Homo sapiens: one gene and its partners. The protein of the gene in region 1 purifies or fractionates together with the protein of each later gene. This does not show direct contact. Each region holds a gene or a part of one and is shown in the gene's direction. Other genes may lie near its edges.

What was found.
Region 2: the proteins of OSGIN1 (region 1) and RPS6KA6 purify together in Homo sapiens (affinity purification with mass spectrometry; 3 studies listed by BioGRID and IntAct, with this or other methods). This does not show direct contact.
Region 3: the proteins of OSGIN1 (region 1) and BTBD1 purify together in Homo sapiens (affinity purification with mass spectrometry; 3 studies listed by BioGRID and IntAct, with this or other methods). This does not show direct contact.
Region 4: the proteins of OSGIN1 (region 1) and TUBA3E purify together in Homo sapiens (affinity purification with mass spectrometry; one large-scale study listed by BioGRID and IntAct). This does not show direct contact.

The regions. Positions count from the first base shown.
Region 1 is NC_000016.10:83,959,730-83,963,296, forward strand, and holds part of OSGIN1 (oxidative stress-induced growth inhibitor 1), read left to right. Parts: intron 1-839; coding exon 840-1,031; intron 1,032-1,251; coding exon 1,252-1,343; intron 1,344-3,567. UniProt on the Homo sapiens protein: Monooxygenase catalytic activity. Involved in regulation of cytokinesis; promotes RHOA activity, probably acting locally at the midbody in late cytokinesis.
Region 2 is NC_000023.11:84,062,673-84,066,239, reverse strand, and holds part of RPS6KA6 (ribosomal protein S6 kinase alpha-6), read left to right. Parts: intron 1-1,128; coding exon 1,129-1,269; intron 1,270-1,837; coding exon 1,838-1,963; 3' UTR 1,964-3,567. UniProt on the Homo sapiens protein: Constitutively active serine/threonine-protein kinase that exhibits growth-factor-independent kinase activity and that may participate in p53/TP53-dependent cell growth arrest signaling and play an inhibitory role during embryogenesis.
Region 3 is NC_000015.10:83,039,729-83,043,295, reverse strand, and holds part of BTBD1 (BTB/POZ domain-containing protein 1), read left to right. Parts: intron 1-1,370; coding exon 1,371-1,568; intron 1,569-3,567.
Region 4 is NC_000002.12:130,195,640-130,199,649, reverse strand, and holds the start of TUBA3E (tubulin alpha-3E chain), read left to right. Parts: upstream 1-1,210; 5' UTR 1,211-1,289; coding exon 1,290-1,292; intron 1,293-3,278; coding exon 3,279-3,501; intron 3,502-4,010. UniProt on the Homo sapiens protein: Tubulin is the major constituent of microtubules, a cylinder consisting of laterally associated linear protofilaments composed of alpha- and beta-tubulin heterodimers.

The DNA.
Region 1 (3,567 bases):
ATGCTGGCAAACATCCAGCACTGCACAGGACAACGAGGGTGGTGAGACTGAAATATGTGTGGTGGAGCTTCTCAACCTTGGCCCCACTGACATTTGGATGACTTTGTTCTGGCTACAAAGAATGATCTGGCTCAAATGTCAGTGCGGCCAAGGTTGAGAAACTCCACCACAGATATTTCAGTCCCACTACCTCCTGCCCACAAGGGTTTGCAAATCCTCCCTCCGTACCCCTTGTCTTCCACTGTGCTCCTCCACGACCTCCCCTTGTCGACCTCCCTCGTCAGGCAGTGTACATCCTCCTGTTCCCTTCCCGCCCCTGAGTTGGAGATGAGGAAATAGGTCTTGACCATTTGATCTAGATCAGCATTTTTCAAAGTGCTCTCTATAGAATACTAGTTCCTCAGTATAATATAGAGAGAAAAATGTCCCCACTCCAGTAAAACAGGGACACACTGGGTTTGGCAAAATTAAACAGGTAAATGATGGCTGCAGGACTTGTCAGAGCCTTTAATATGCCCGTCTGTGTTATCTGCTGTTAAGAGGCAGCACCTCCCAAGCTGATCTGACCACACTGATATTAGGGTAGGGATGTAGGACCAGGCAATCGCTCCAGTCTCACCCAAGCTTGCGCATTTGGTCTGTACTCTGGGGCCCTTGGCCTCCTAGAAAGACCTCAAAACGAGAGCTTCAAACTACCCCCAGGGTGCGCATCTCTCTGAGACCCTCCAGTGCCAGGGAAATGGCCCGGCCCCAGTCCCCACGTTCCTGCCCAGCCTCAGGCTCTGGGAAGACGACCCCGCCCTCCTCCAGCAGCCCCTCTGACCTATGCCCCCCTCCAGGACCTGGACTACCTGTCCGAAGGCCTCGAAGGCCGATCCCAAAGCCCCGTGGCCCTGCTCTTTGATGCCCTTCTACGCCCAGACACAGACTTTGGGGGAAACATGAAGTCGGTCCTCACCTGGAAGCACCGGAAGGAGCACGCCATCCCCCACGTGGTTCTGGGCCGGAACCTCCCCGGGGGAGCCTGGCACGTGAGTGGGGCAGCGAGGGCATGGCTTGTGGGGGGCTCTCTCCCTCGTTCTCCCCACTTGGGGCTGGGACTCTGGCATCTCCCTTTCCTCATTCTCCACCCCGCAACCCTGCCTCTCCCTCCTCCCTCTACCCAGCCCCAGCAAAGGCCTCCCATGCCCTCTAGCCCCAAATGGGTTCAGGCGAGCAGAGGCCTGGACCAAAGGGTTCCTTTCCCTGCAGTCCATCGAAGGCTCCATGGTGATCCTGAGCCAAGGCCAGTGGATGGGGCTCCCGGACCTGGAGGTCAAGGACTGGATGCAGAAGAAGCGAAGGTGAGGCCGCCCCGGAACGCCTTGGGGGACACGGAAGGTTGGGCCTGTGAACCCAGAAAATCTGAGACAGGTCTCAGTTAATTTAGAAAGTTTATTTTTCCAAGGTTGAGGACGCGCCCGTGACAGCCTCAGGAAGTCCTAATGACATGTGCCCAAGGTGATCCGGCACAGCTTGGTTTTATACATTTTAGGGAGACATGAGACATCAATCAATATTTGTAAGAAGTACATTGGTTCGGTCTGGAAAGCTGGGCCAGCTTGAAGCAAAGGCAGGAAGTGGGGAGGGGGCTTCCAGGTCGCAGGTAGGTGAGAGATAAACAGTTGCATTCTTTTGAGGTTCTGATGAGCCTCTCCAAATGAGGCGATCAGATACGCATCTATCTCAGGGAGCAGAGGGGTGACTTGGAATGGAATGGGAGGCAGGGTGGCCCTCAGCAGTTCTCAGCTTGACTTTTCCCTTTAGCTTAGTGATTTGGGGGATTTCACAGGCCCCCCACAGTGAGCCCGTGAGCCAGAGGTACAGGGGCTTCAGAGTGCATCTGGTCTGTCTTCCTCTTCTTCCAGAGGGGGAAACTGAGGCTCAGATAGGGAAAGGACTTGTCCACCCCACATGAGTGGGGGTGAGCAGCAGAGCTGGGCTCACCCGAGGACCCCCTGTCCCGTGCAAGCAGCAGACCGCCCTGTCACATGGCCCCCAACTGGGCCTCCCCATAGTGCCCCAGCCTCTAAGGAGGGGGTAACACCTGGCCCCTGAGCCCCACGCCCTGCCCCGTGCCTCTGGCACAGGTCCCCCAGTCCTTGTGGTCTCCCTTCAGCCCTTTCCTCTATTCTGAGCCTGGCCTAGAACAATCTTTCTGGGTCAGCTAATAGGGTGACTTTCTTTTTTCTTTTCTTTTTTTTTTTTTTAATGCTTTTGCTACAGGTGAGTTTCATCCTTAACCATGAGCCCCCAAGTTGGGTAAATTAACTCACCTAAGGTCATGCAGGTTATTGGAAATGCAGAAGGAAAACAGCTCACCCCAAACCCACACTTCTCCACGCCCTTTCACTCCTGGGGTATTTTTTCCCCATCTGGCTTCCTGCCCCATCATGGCCACCCTAGAGAAAAGGTTTGTGAACCCTGAATATTTGAGATGGGTCTCAGTTAATTTAGGAAGTTTTGTTTGTTTATTTGTTGTTTGTTTTTAATGAAGTCTCCCTCTGTCGCCCAGGCTGGAGTGCAGTGGCGCGATCTCAGCTCACTGCAAGCTCCGCCTCCCAGGTTCAAGCCATTCTCCTGCCCCAGCCTCCCGAGTAGCTGGGACTACAGGTGCCCACCACCACACCCGGCTAATTATTTTTTGTATTTTTAGTAGAGACGGGGTTTCACCGTGTTAGCCAGGATGGTCTCGATCTCCTGATCTCGTGATCCGCCCACCTCGGCCTCCCAAAGTGCTGGGATTACAGGCGTGAGCCACCACGCCAGGCTAATTTAGGAAGTTTAATTGCCAAGGTTGAAGACGCACAACCATGACACAGCCTCAGGAGGTCCTGATAACATGTACACATGGTGGTCGGGGCACAGCCTGGCTGTATACGTTAGGGAGACTTGAGACATCAATCACTATATGTAAGATGGACATTGGTTCCGTCCAGAGGCGGGACAACTCCAGCAGGGAGGGGTGTTTCCAGGTCTCAGACAGGTGAGAGACAAACGGTTGCATTCTTTCGAGTTTCTTATAAGCCTTTCCAAAGGAGGCAATCAGGTGTGCATTTATCTCAGTGGGCAGAGGGAAGACTTTGAGTAGGACGGGAGGCAGCTTTGCCCTAGGCAGTTCCCTGCTTGACTTTTCCTTTAACTTAGTGATTTGGGGGCCCCAAGATTGATTTGCCTCTCACAGTTTCAATCACTGAATAAAGGAGTTCTAGTCCCTGCTCCTCCTGGGGTGCATCCACTCAATGAGAAGCTGCCCCAGCGCAGATACCTGGGTGCAGTCTGCCTCTCGGGAAGCCCTGCTTCCTCCGCCCCCAGGGCTGTGACCAGGCCTGTGTCCCCAACGGCAGGCACTCCAGGCGTCCCCCTCCAGGCCTCACTATCTCTTTGATGCGAAGACTCTTCTGCATGTTTGGCAGGAAGACTTCCAGGTTTGTGTAGCTACATGTTAGTAGGCAGCCAGAAACTTACATTTCGCTTGTAAGCACAGCCTTTTATAGGCTCATTTTGCATTTTCACATTGTATCCCAA
Region 2 (3,567 bases), on another chromosome or scaffold:
GGCACCACTGGGTTACGAAAAAAAAAAAAAAAACTGCAGCTAGCTCACTGTCTGCCCAAATTGTCTCCCAGTTTTATCCTTGAAACCCAGGACCCTGGTGGTGTAGGCACACCAGGGAATCTCCTGATTTGTGGATTGCAAAAACCATGGGAAAAGTGTAGTATCTGGGCTGGGTAGCACAGTCCCTCACAGCTTTGCTTGGCTGAGGGAGAGAGGTCCCCTGGCTCCTTGCACTTCTCATGTTGGGCGATGCCCCACCCTACTTCTGCTCACCCTCCGTGAGTTGGACCCACTGGCTAACCAGTCCCAGTGAGACGAACTGGGTACCTCAGTTGTAAATGGAGAAATCACCCACCTTCTGCTTTGGTCTCACTGGGAGCTGCTGACCGGAGCTGTTATTCGGCCATCTTGCCAGATTCTCCGAAAATGCTTATTAAGGAGTTTACTTCTCATTTCTCTAAAAGATACTTGGGAGAGACAGTTTATTTAAAAGTATTACATCTCTTAATATATTGAAAACTTTTCCTGTGAGGTTATATTAAATTTACAACTTTTTTAATTGCAACAGAGATAACATAAGCAAACGTACACTTACTTTGATGAAAAACTTAAAATGCACTGGGGACTACTATGATAGAAGCCACTTGCTAACATTGGATTTATGGTTTGCTTTCTTAATATGTTATATAGTAAGCCACCATTTATTGAATGGATTAACTACATGGGACCCTCCCTTCTATGTTTTATCTGTGTACACATACCCTTACACCTTGGGGCCCAGCTTAACAGCAAAGTTCAATAGCTCCTGTCTCCTGCTGAACATTTAGCATATTCCAGGATAACTTCTGCCATTTTACATTTTCCTCCTCCGTCACTAATCACACATCCAATTCCACAGATTTGGCATCTTCCGATTTAAAAGTGGTGTATAAGGATTTAGTATATATTGAAAAATATCTCTCAAGATTCTCTTGAGAGTTAACTGTGTAGAGTATAGATTTTACTTTGCATAAATGTAGGTGAAATAAACAGATTGCAAGGCTATTGATGCTGTCACATTTTCAGCAAATGTAAAATTATGTATGTATACATGTATATATATATACACACACATTTTTTTTAATTTAGGATTTGCTTTCCCATATGCTTCATATGGACCCACATCAGCGGTATACTGCTGAACAAATATTAAAGCACTCATGGATAACTCACAGAGACCAGTTGCCAAATGATCAGCCAAAGAGAAATGATGTGTCACATGTTGTTAAGGTAAAACAAACATACTTTTATGTGCCTTCGAGATATCAGATACCTAATAAACCCATTGTGTGCCACTTGCTGATGACACTTAAATAATTCCTTAAAATATCTTTATTTTTTAAAGATAGATTTTTTTAAATTAACAACCATGTACTTTTCTTAGCTTACTTTACTACTGCCTTTCAGATGAAACAATAAAAATTTCTTGATTGTACCTGCCGTGCTTTTGAGAGATGCTGGAATTAGGATTGGGCTAAATGCAAGTTTCATATTGAAATAAAAGATTGCTGTTAGTTCTTAATTTATAACTGTTCGTGAAACCATTCCTATATCCATATACATTGAATCAAGGTTTTAAATGTTAGTGTTTTAACAATTTTTTGTAAAAAGCATAGTTATTGAAATGAAAAACATACAAGTAATATTGATTCATCAGTGCACAGATCTAATATATTCAATTATTTTCCTAGGAAAACATTTTGTTCTAGATATATGTCTCATGATATCATGTGAAAGTTTTTTTTTTTTTTAACTCCAGAATTTGTACTTAGTTTGTGGCATTTTCTCATTACTTTAGGGAGCAATGGTTGCAACATACTCTGCCCTGACTCACAAGACCTTTCAACCAGTCCTAGAGCCTGTAGCTGCTTCAAGCTTAGCCCAGCGACGGAGCATGAAAAAGCGAACATCAACTGGCCTGTAAGATTTGTGGTGTTCCTAGGCCAAACTGGATGAAGATGAAATTAAATGTGTGGCTTTTTTCCTATTCTTATCAAAGGCATCGTTGTCTGCTAAATTACTTGAATATTAAGTAATATTAAATCCCCATTTTTAGGGGAAGTGAGATTTAAAAAACCATTCACAGGTCCACAATATTCATACTATGTGTTTGCAGTAGTGTTCAAGTGTTTATTTAAGCATATAATTGGTGTCCACCAGGTCCTCACAACTTCTCTGCACACAAGCTTCTAAAATTCCTTTCAAATAAAGTTACTTTAATATTTTTTTTCTTGTTTCATACAATTATGGTTTGGGGAGTCATTACCAACAATCAGTATACATATATAATAGTATAATGACAAGCAATGTTAGTATTTTTAAACATCAGATCCTGAAGGATAGGCTTTTTCTAATGAAAGAAAAACAACAAAAACTTATTATAAAAGCTTGTTATTCCGTAAAACCAAAGGACTCCATTCATTTGACTCACTGTAGTTACTAAAATGTAAACATAGTGGTTTGGTGCCAGAGCAAAATACATTTGTGCTAATATATGAATTCTTGATATAGTTGGTGCCAAAGTTTTTATAGAAGAATTATATCTCAGATAATGTGTGCAGGCAGATCTGTATATTATCCATAATAAGTGGCCTCATTTAGAAATAAAGGTTTTTATAAGGCTTCTGTAAATTTTACATCATGGAAATTTAGTACAAGTGAAACTTTTTTTTTTTCCAAAGGCTTTATACTGTTGGTGTAATCTTATAAATAGGTCATAGTTAAGCCTTTGAAAATGAAGTATGTGGTGTTGACACTATCCTGGTGTTATATAAACTGACTTTCAAGTTAACCAATTGGATTGTAATCATCATCTATCCCCTTTATAAATGAACTACACTGTTGTTTTTCTGACTTCGATGTGCTTTGAAGTACAGTGTAGCATATCATTCTACCTTGAATCCTATGATAATACAGTTGACATCTTGCTGTAGTGGACTTGTGCATATAGCACACATGATATAGTATATTGTATTACAGTAAACTTTAGACAATGCTACTTAATCATTTTACTTCATGAAGATAAACTAACATTTTAAATATGAATAATATTAATGGTCTACAAAAAATTTGAGCACATTTTAAAATCATATTTATAAAAAACTGGCCAAATTGGTCTTATTTAATGTATAATTCAGAACCACTGTGTAGTATGTATTCTTTTCTCTAAATGATGAAATGCTAAAGAATCATTTCACGTTGTTGAAGAAAATACCGTTGCTACAACAACAGCAGCAGCTACTACTGCTACTACTACTACTACTACTACTACTACTACTACTACTGACAGAAAGAATTCATGAATGTAAACTGGAGGATATCACAGTTTTCTTTAGTGAATATAAGTGAACTACTTGTGCGTGTTAGGTGTACTATTTGCTATGTATTTTATTTTGCTTTATTCAGAGAGAAAGTTGATTACTGAGTGCTGAATTATACAATTTAGGCTAGGAAACTCGTAACTTTGGTATTTAATAAAAGAAACTATACATATTCTGTTTGTAATGTAAATAATCTATACCCCATGCA
Region 3 (3,567 bases), on another chromosome or scaffold:
CCAGGCACACTTTAATATGAGAGCCTTTGTACTTTTAGTCCTGGAATACTATTCCTCTAGGTATCTATTTGGCTTACTCCCCCACTTCCTTCATGTCTTGGCATAAGTGAAGCCTGCCTAAACCACCCGATTTTATTTTATTTTATTATTTTTTGGCACAGTCTCACTCTGTTGCCTGGGCTGGAGTACAATGGCATGATCATGGCTCACTGCAGCCTGCAACCTCCCAGGCTCGAGTGATCCTGCTGTCTCAGCCTCCTGAGTAGCTGAGACTACAAGTGCATGCCACCATGCCTGGCTAATTTTTAAAAACTTTTTTGTAGAGATGGGGTCTCACTATATTGCCCAGGCTGGCCTGAAACTCCTGGGCTCAAGCCATGCTCCTGTCTCAGCCTCTTAAATTGCTGGGACTACTGGCATGGGTCACCATGCCTGGCCCCTTCCTATTTTAAACTGCATTTCTGATTCTCCTTAACCTGACATATTTGCCCATGTATATCATCTAAGATACTCGAATTTACTTGTGTTTATTTAATCTGTTTCTCCTCATTAGAATGTAAGCTCCATGAGGGCAGGAATTTTTAACTTTTTGTTCAGTGATATATCAGTGCTGGCTGGGCGCGGTGGCTCACGCCTGTAATCCCAGCACTTTGGAAGGCCGAGGCAGGCAGATCACTTCAGGTCGGAAGTTTGAGACCAGGCTGGCCAACATGGTGAAACCCTGTCTCTACTAAAAATATAAAAATTAGCCAGGTGTGGTGGCCCGTGCCAGTAATCCAAGCTACCCAGGAGGCTGAGGCAGGAGAATTGCTTGAACCTAGGAGGCAGAGGTTGCATTGAGCCGAGATTGTGCCTCTGCACTCCAGCCTGAGCAACAGAATGAGACTCTATGACTCTATATCCAAAATATATACATACATATATATATATATATATATATATATATAAAATTGCCTAATAGTACCTGGCACGTAGTGCTTAATAATAAATATTTACTGAATGAACGAATGAATTATAATCTGTAGACTTTAAGAATTTATGTAATTGGAACCTTTTTCTGTGGCTTGTTAATCTTATTCTGGATAGTTGAGTTTACTTGATAAATGGCATAAATATATAAGGAGAGTACTGTATCTTAATATTGCATGTATGGTAAGTAATAAATTGATTGTTAAACTGATTTTTATGGAACACTTTGGAGTTTAAGTCCTTTAATTATTTAGTATTTTAAAGTATAAAGTCTGTAGTTTTAAGTGTCTAACCTATTTTTTGTTGAGATCTGAAAACTTAATATAAGTGTGTCTGTTGGTATTGCTTGGTTAGAGAGCTAAAATATTTCTAATTGGGTTTATTTTGTATTTTGCCTATAGATACACTCTGTGCAGTTTTAGAGAGAGACACACTCAGTATTCGAGAAAGTCGACTTTTTGGAGCTGTTGTACGCTGGGCAGAAGCAGAATGTCAGAGACAACAATTACCTGTGACTTTTGGGAATAAACAAAAAGTTCTAGGAAAAGCACTTTCCTTAATCCGGTTCCCACTGATGACAATTGAGGAATTTGCAGCAGGTAAGGGTATAAATTCACCAAAATCTATTTGAAACTGTTTTAATAGTCTGTCAGGGCTGGGCCTGGTGGCTCACACCTATAATCCCAGCACTTTCGAGAGGCCAAGGCAGGTGGATCACTTGAGGACAGGAGTTCGACACCAGCCTTGTCAACATGGTAAAACCCCGTCTCTACTAAAAGTACAAAAAATTAGGCATGGTGGTGGGCACCTGTAATCTCAGCTACTCAGGAGGCTGAGGCAGGAGAATCGCTTGAACCCAGGAGACGGAGGTTGCAGTGAGCCGAGATCATGCCGTTGCATTCCAGCCCGGGCGACAGAGCGAGATTCCACGAGACTCCATCTCAAAAAAAAAAAAAAATTCTATCAGTCTCCCTGCGCCAGAGAGGAAAAGAAGCTTTTATTCAGTACTAATCACATGACAAACATATATGCGAGTGTATGATTTTAAGCCCTTCAAAATTATATTATCCACATTGTATAGGTTAGAGAAGTAAAGTTGGGAGAGGTTGAGTGCCTTACCCCAGGTTATGACAGATCTTTTTGGCTTTTTTTTTTTTTCTTTTTTTTCTTTTTTTGAGACAGAGTCTTCCTCTGTTACCCAGGCTGGAGTGCCGTGGCACAAACGCATTTCACTGAAGCCTCCACCTCCCAGGCTCAATCAATCCTCCCACCTCAGCCTCCCAAATAGCAGGGACTATAGGTGCACACTACCATGCTCAGCTAATTTTTTAATTTTTTTTATAGAGACAGGATTTCACCATCCTGTCAGGGCTGGTCTTGAACTCCTGGGCTCAAGCCTCCCAAAGTGCTGGGATTACAGGTGTAAGCCACCACGCCCAGCCTCTGTTTGACTCTTAAGGTCGATGCTTCTGATTAAAATCAGACAGATCTGTTTTGAGTCTCCATGACCACTTCTGACCTGTTTTCATTACCCAGGTCATAATTGACTATTATCTGCCTTTAAATCACGGCCAGATTGATTCAAAAGAAAGAAAAGTCTCATGGTTTTTTTTTTTTTTTTTTTTTTGAGACAGGGTCTCCCTCTGTTGCTCAGGCTGGAGTGCGGTCGTGCGATCTCAGCTCACCGCAACGTCCATCTCCTGGGTTCAAGCGATTCTCACACCTCAGCCTCCTGAGTAGCTGGGATTACAGGCGTGCACCGCCACAAACTAATTTTTGTATTTTTAGTAGAGACAGAGTTTCACCATATTTGTCAAGCTGGTCTTGAACTCCTGACCTCAGGTGATCTGCCCACCTCGGGCTCCCAAAGTGCTGGGATTATAGGCATGAGCCACTGTGCCTAGCTCTCATGATTTTTTAAAAAATAATTTCAACTTTTATTTTAAATTCGGGGTAACGTGCAGATTTGTTTCATGTGTATATTGTGTGATGCTGAAGTTTGAGGTACAGTTGATTGCATCACTTAGGCAGTGAGCATAGTGTCCAGTAGTTAGTTTTTTAACTCTTTTCCCCCTTCTGTCCCTTCCTCTTTTCCCCTTTTTAACAGTCCTCAGTGCTTATTGTTTCCATCTTTATGTCCATGTGTATCCAATGTTTAGCTTCCACAAGTGAGAACATACGGTATTTGGTTTACTGTTTCTGCATTAACTCACTTAAGATAATGGCTTCTAGCTGCATCCATGTTGCTGCGAAAGGCATGATTTTGTTCTTTTTTATGGCTTTATAGTATTCTGTGGTGTGTGTGTGTCCGTGTGTGTGTGTGTGTGTGTGTGTGTGTGTGTCACATTCTCTACCCAGTCTACCACTGATGGGCACCCAGGTTGAGTCAGTGTCGTTGCTGTGATGAACATATGAGTGCATGTGTCTTTTGGTGGAACATTTTCTTTTCTTTTGGATATATAACCAGTAATGGGATTGCTGGGTTGACTGGTAGTTCTATGTTTTTTGGTTTTTTTGGGAGGTTGTTTGTGGTTTTTTTTTTTTTTTTTGAGACAGAGCCTCACTCTGTCACCCAGGCTGGAGTACAGTGGTACAATC
Region 4 (4,010 bases), on another chromosome or scaffold:
TTTAAAAACCCACTTATAACTGCTGCTAATATTTTAAGACAACTTGCATCTCCAGGGTTGCACTTCTCAAACTTGGCCCAAATAAACTATTTTTTTTTTCAAGATGGAGTTTTGCTCTGTCACCCAGGCTTGAGTGCAGTGGCGTGATCTCAGCTCACTGTAACCTCTGCCTCCCGGGTTCAAGGGATTCTCCTGCCTCAGCCTCCTGAGTAGCTGGGATTACAGGCGCATGCCACCATGCCTTGCTAATTTTATTTTTTGTAGAAACGGGCAAGGTGGGACTCACCACGTTGCCCAGGCTGGTCTCGAACTCCTGACCTGAAGCAATCCTCCTGCCGTGGCCTCCCAAAGCACTGGAATTACAGGCATGAGCTGGTGTGCCTGGCCCAACCTCTCCACTTACGTTAATTTTGCCTCCTTTCTTCCTTTTTTTTTTGAGACAGAGTCTGGCTCTGTTGCCCAGGCTGGAGTGTGCTGTGGCCCAATCTCGGCTCACTGCAACAACTGCCTCCCAGTTTCAAGCGATTCTCCTACCTCAGCCTCCCGTGTAGCTGGGATTACAGGTGCCTACCACCAGCCAGGGTAATTTTTGTGTTTTTAGTAGAGATGGGTTTTCACCATATTGGCCAGGCTGGTCTCGGGAACTCTTGACCTCAAGTGATCCACCCGCCTCGGCCTCCCGAAGTGCTGGGATTGCAGGCGTTAGCCATCGCGCCCGGCCCGTTTTCTCCCTTTGGGTCAGAAAAGTGATTGAATCCTGCCACTTCCCGGGTGCTGGGTGGGAACAGGGAAGAGGGGGATAATTGCGGTGCTGCTGTGACTTGGGTAGATGGCGGCAAGGCCTCTCAGAGGTGGCCTTGTTTGCAAAGATCTGAATTAGGCAGGGAGAGGAGCAGGCCTGGGGCAATCAGGGAGGGGCAGTGGCACACTGGGAGCAAGGCAATGTTCCGCGACCCACAGAGGCAGCGCAGTAGCTGTTCCAATCCTGGTCGGAAGACACCCCGGAAATGCCTCAGCAACCGCGCAGCCTTTGATGACCCCGCTGCCTTCCCGCCAATCCTGCATCCAATCAGAGAGCATCCCCACTACACGTGTTGAGCAACGGCCAATCAGAACTGGGATCCGGCCCTCGGCCTGCCTCCCAGGAACTCCGAGCCAATGGCGGCCTGGCACCGGCAGGCCAATCCTGTGCGGCGCGCGTGGGCAGGTCATTGCAGTTGGGCGCTCAGCAGCTGTGGCAGCCGGTTGAGGTCTGGAAGTAGCGTTGGGCTGAAGCAGCGGAGTTCGCCATGGTAAGACCCGGGTCACTCCCGCCCCGCAGATGCCCAGGCAGACGAAGTTGGCCTCGGGTGGACAGAGGGACGTTGTTGCGGGCCTGGGCGCTGAGAGGAGGCCAGAGAAGGACGCAGGGTCTAGTGCGGGACAGGAGGACACGGGATCGTTTCCTGGATCTGCAGGTCCCAGGGCAGGGACGGCGGCTTTTGTTTTAGATGAAGCTGCCGGCCTTTAGTGGACGGGGACCATTGACGGTATCCCGTCCCCCAGAGAGCAAATAGTGGCGTCGCCTCCTGAAGACAGGAGGGCGCTGCTCCCGCTTCACACGTCTTTGTGCTACTGGAAACAGCTGAGGAGCTGCAGGAGCCTTCGGTGACGGGGGTTGGGGCTGTGGACATTGGTCAGATGAGGAATTAAGGCTCAGACGCTGCTGCAACATTGCCTTGTTCACCTAAAGGCAACCGTTAGGCCAGGCGCGGCGGCTCACGCCTGGAATCCCAGCCCTTGGGGAGGTGGAGGCGGGCGGATCCCCTGATGTCTGGAGTTCAAGATCAGCCCGACCAACATGGCGAAACCCAGTCTCTACAAAAAAATACTAAAATTACCCGGGCATGGTGATGCGAGTCTGTGGTTCCAGCTACTCGGGAGGCTGAGGTGGGAGGATCAGCCGAGCCTGGAACTTTGAGGCTGCAGTGAGTCGTGATGGCGCCAGTGCACTCCAGCCTGGGCCACAGAGACCCTGCCTCAAAAAACCAAACAAAAAAAGCAGCCCATTAACATAACAGATTCCCAAGTCCCAAGTCTGAATAGCTGTGATTTGTCAGTTATCCTTTTTTTCCTTTCTTTTTCTTTTTTCTTTTCTTTTCTTTTTTTTTTTTTTTTGAGACAGCACTCAATAAATGCTCTGTTGCCCAGGCTGGAACACAGTTGCAAGATCACGGCTCCCTGCAGCCTTGAACCCCTGGCTTCCAGCAGTCCTCCCGCCTCAGCCTTCCGAGTAGCTGGTACTACAGGTGTGTGCCACCACACCTGGCTAATTTGTAAATTTTTCATAGGGACAGGGACTCACTATGTTACCCAGGCTGGTCTCAAACTGGTCCCAAGTGATCCTCTCACCTCAGCCTTCCAAAGTGCTGGGATTACAGGAATGAGCCACCACACCCAGCTTGGCAGAGTTTAAAGAAACCACCAAAGGACAGTGCAGTGTCCCAGCACTGATGATGTCTGGGAGCCATTACACCCGTAGGCTTCAAGGGGTAGAGAGAGGGCGTGGTTACAAGAAATTAGGAGGGTAGTTTTATGAAGAGGGCAGCCTGCCAAAAGTGTAGCCTTGAGAGGGATTCAGGTCACCCACAGCAGTTGAGCAGGAAGGGGCCAAGGAGGGAGTACCCTGGCACTGCTTTCCTCCAGCCCCCCAGTATCCCACTGCTGCCTGCCATTGACCAAACCAGCAAGAAGCCAGAGGGCGAGGAAGGCCTCTGATGCTGTTCTCAAGGGTCAGCCTTCGAGAGCACAGAGCAGGTGGTGAATGATGGACGGGGTAGAACTGGGGGGCAGAGAGAGGACACACACTGAGCACCTGGGCTTGGACCATGGTGACCTGGGACCTACTCTGTATTTCCTTACCCAACCCGACTACCTTATCCTTTGATCAGGACATAATCAAAAACTGCTACTTATTCTTCAGAGAATTACTGTGACGGGCTATAATGTGGGGTTGATTATTGACATTAAATGGCTTCCAAGTTTTAAAATAACCTAAGTTTTGTGTAGTGGCAAACAGGTTCTAGGGCTACTTCTAGAACTTACTAGCTAGTATGGTTTACAGCAATTAGTTTTCACAGCGATAAAGGGATCAGTCACTAACCCTCCTAGGAAATATCGATTGTGAAAGCGCCAGATACTGAAGCACTATATAAATATTAAATTAGAATATTTTGCATGCCATATAGTTTCAAGTTGCCTTGAAATGAATGGGTTCACATTTATGTTCCGGTTCACAGCGCGAGTGTATCTCTATCCACGTGGGGCAGGCGGGTGTCCAGATCGGCAATGCCTGCTGGGAACTGTACTGCCTTGAACATGGAATTCAGCCCGATGGTCAAATGCCAAGTGATAAAACCATTGGTGGCGGGGACGACTCCTTCAACACGTTCTTCAGTGAGACTGGAGCTGGCAAGCACGTGCCCAGAGCAGTGTTTGTGGACCTGGAGCCCACTGTGGTCGGTAGGTGCCTGGGCACTGGATGGCAGCTTTCCTGAGAGGGTGGGAGAGCATTGGTAAAGCCCCGTGTGGGCTCCTTTGAATCCTCCTGCTGAAAGGATGGGATAGACAGGCATATGCCCATGGCATTGTTAGGAGAGAAACTGAAAGGTTTGTGATGAAAGTGTCTGTGAGACTCGGCTCCTAATTTAGGAAAACCTGACCTACAGGGAAAAGCTGCTTTGCCAGCAGTAAGATGGGCTGTGAAGAGATTCCCTCATGGCTGCCTCAGCCCTGCTCAGGTGGCCCTGCCTGCAGGGTGCAGTGGCATTGGTTCCCTCCCGAATGCTGTGCATTCTCTTATGCTGGTGCACGAGAGTCTTGACCTGCATCTTAGGCATAGAAGGTAAGTACAGAACAGTCATTTGCTTCCTTCAGATTCGCAGCCTGAGGTAGTTTCCAAGGAGAGCTACAAAGAGGCAGCACCTTTCAGTGGCCCCCCAGGAGATGACAGCATCACCTGAAAGCCTGTG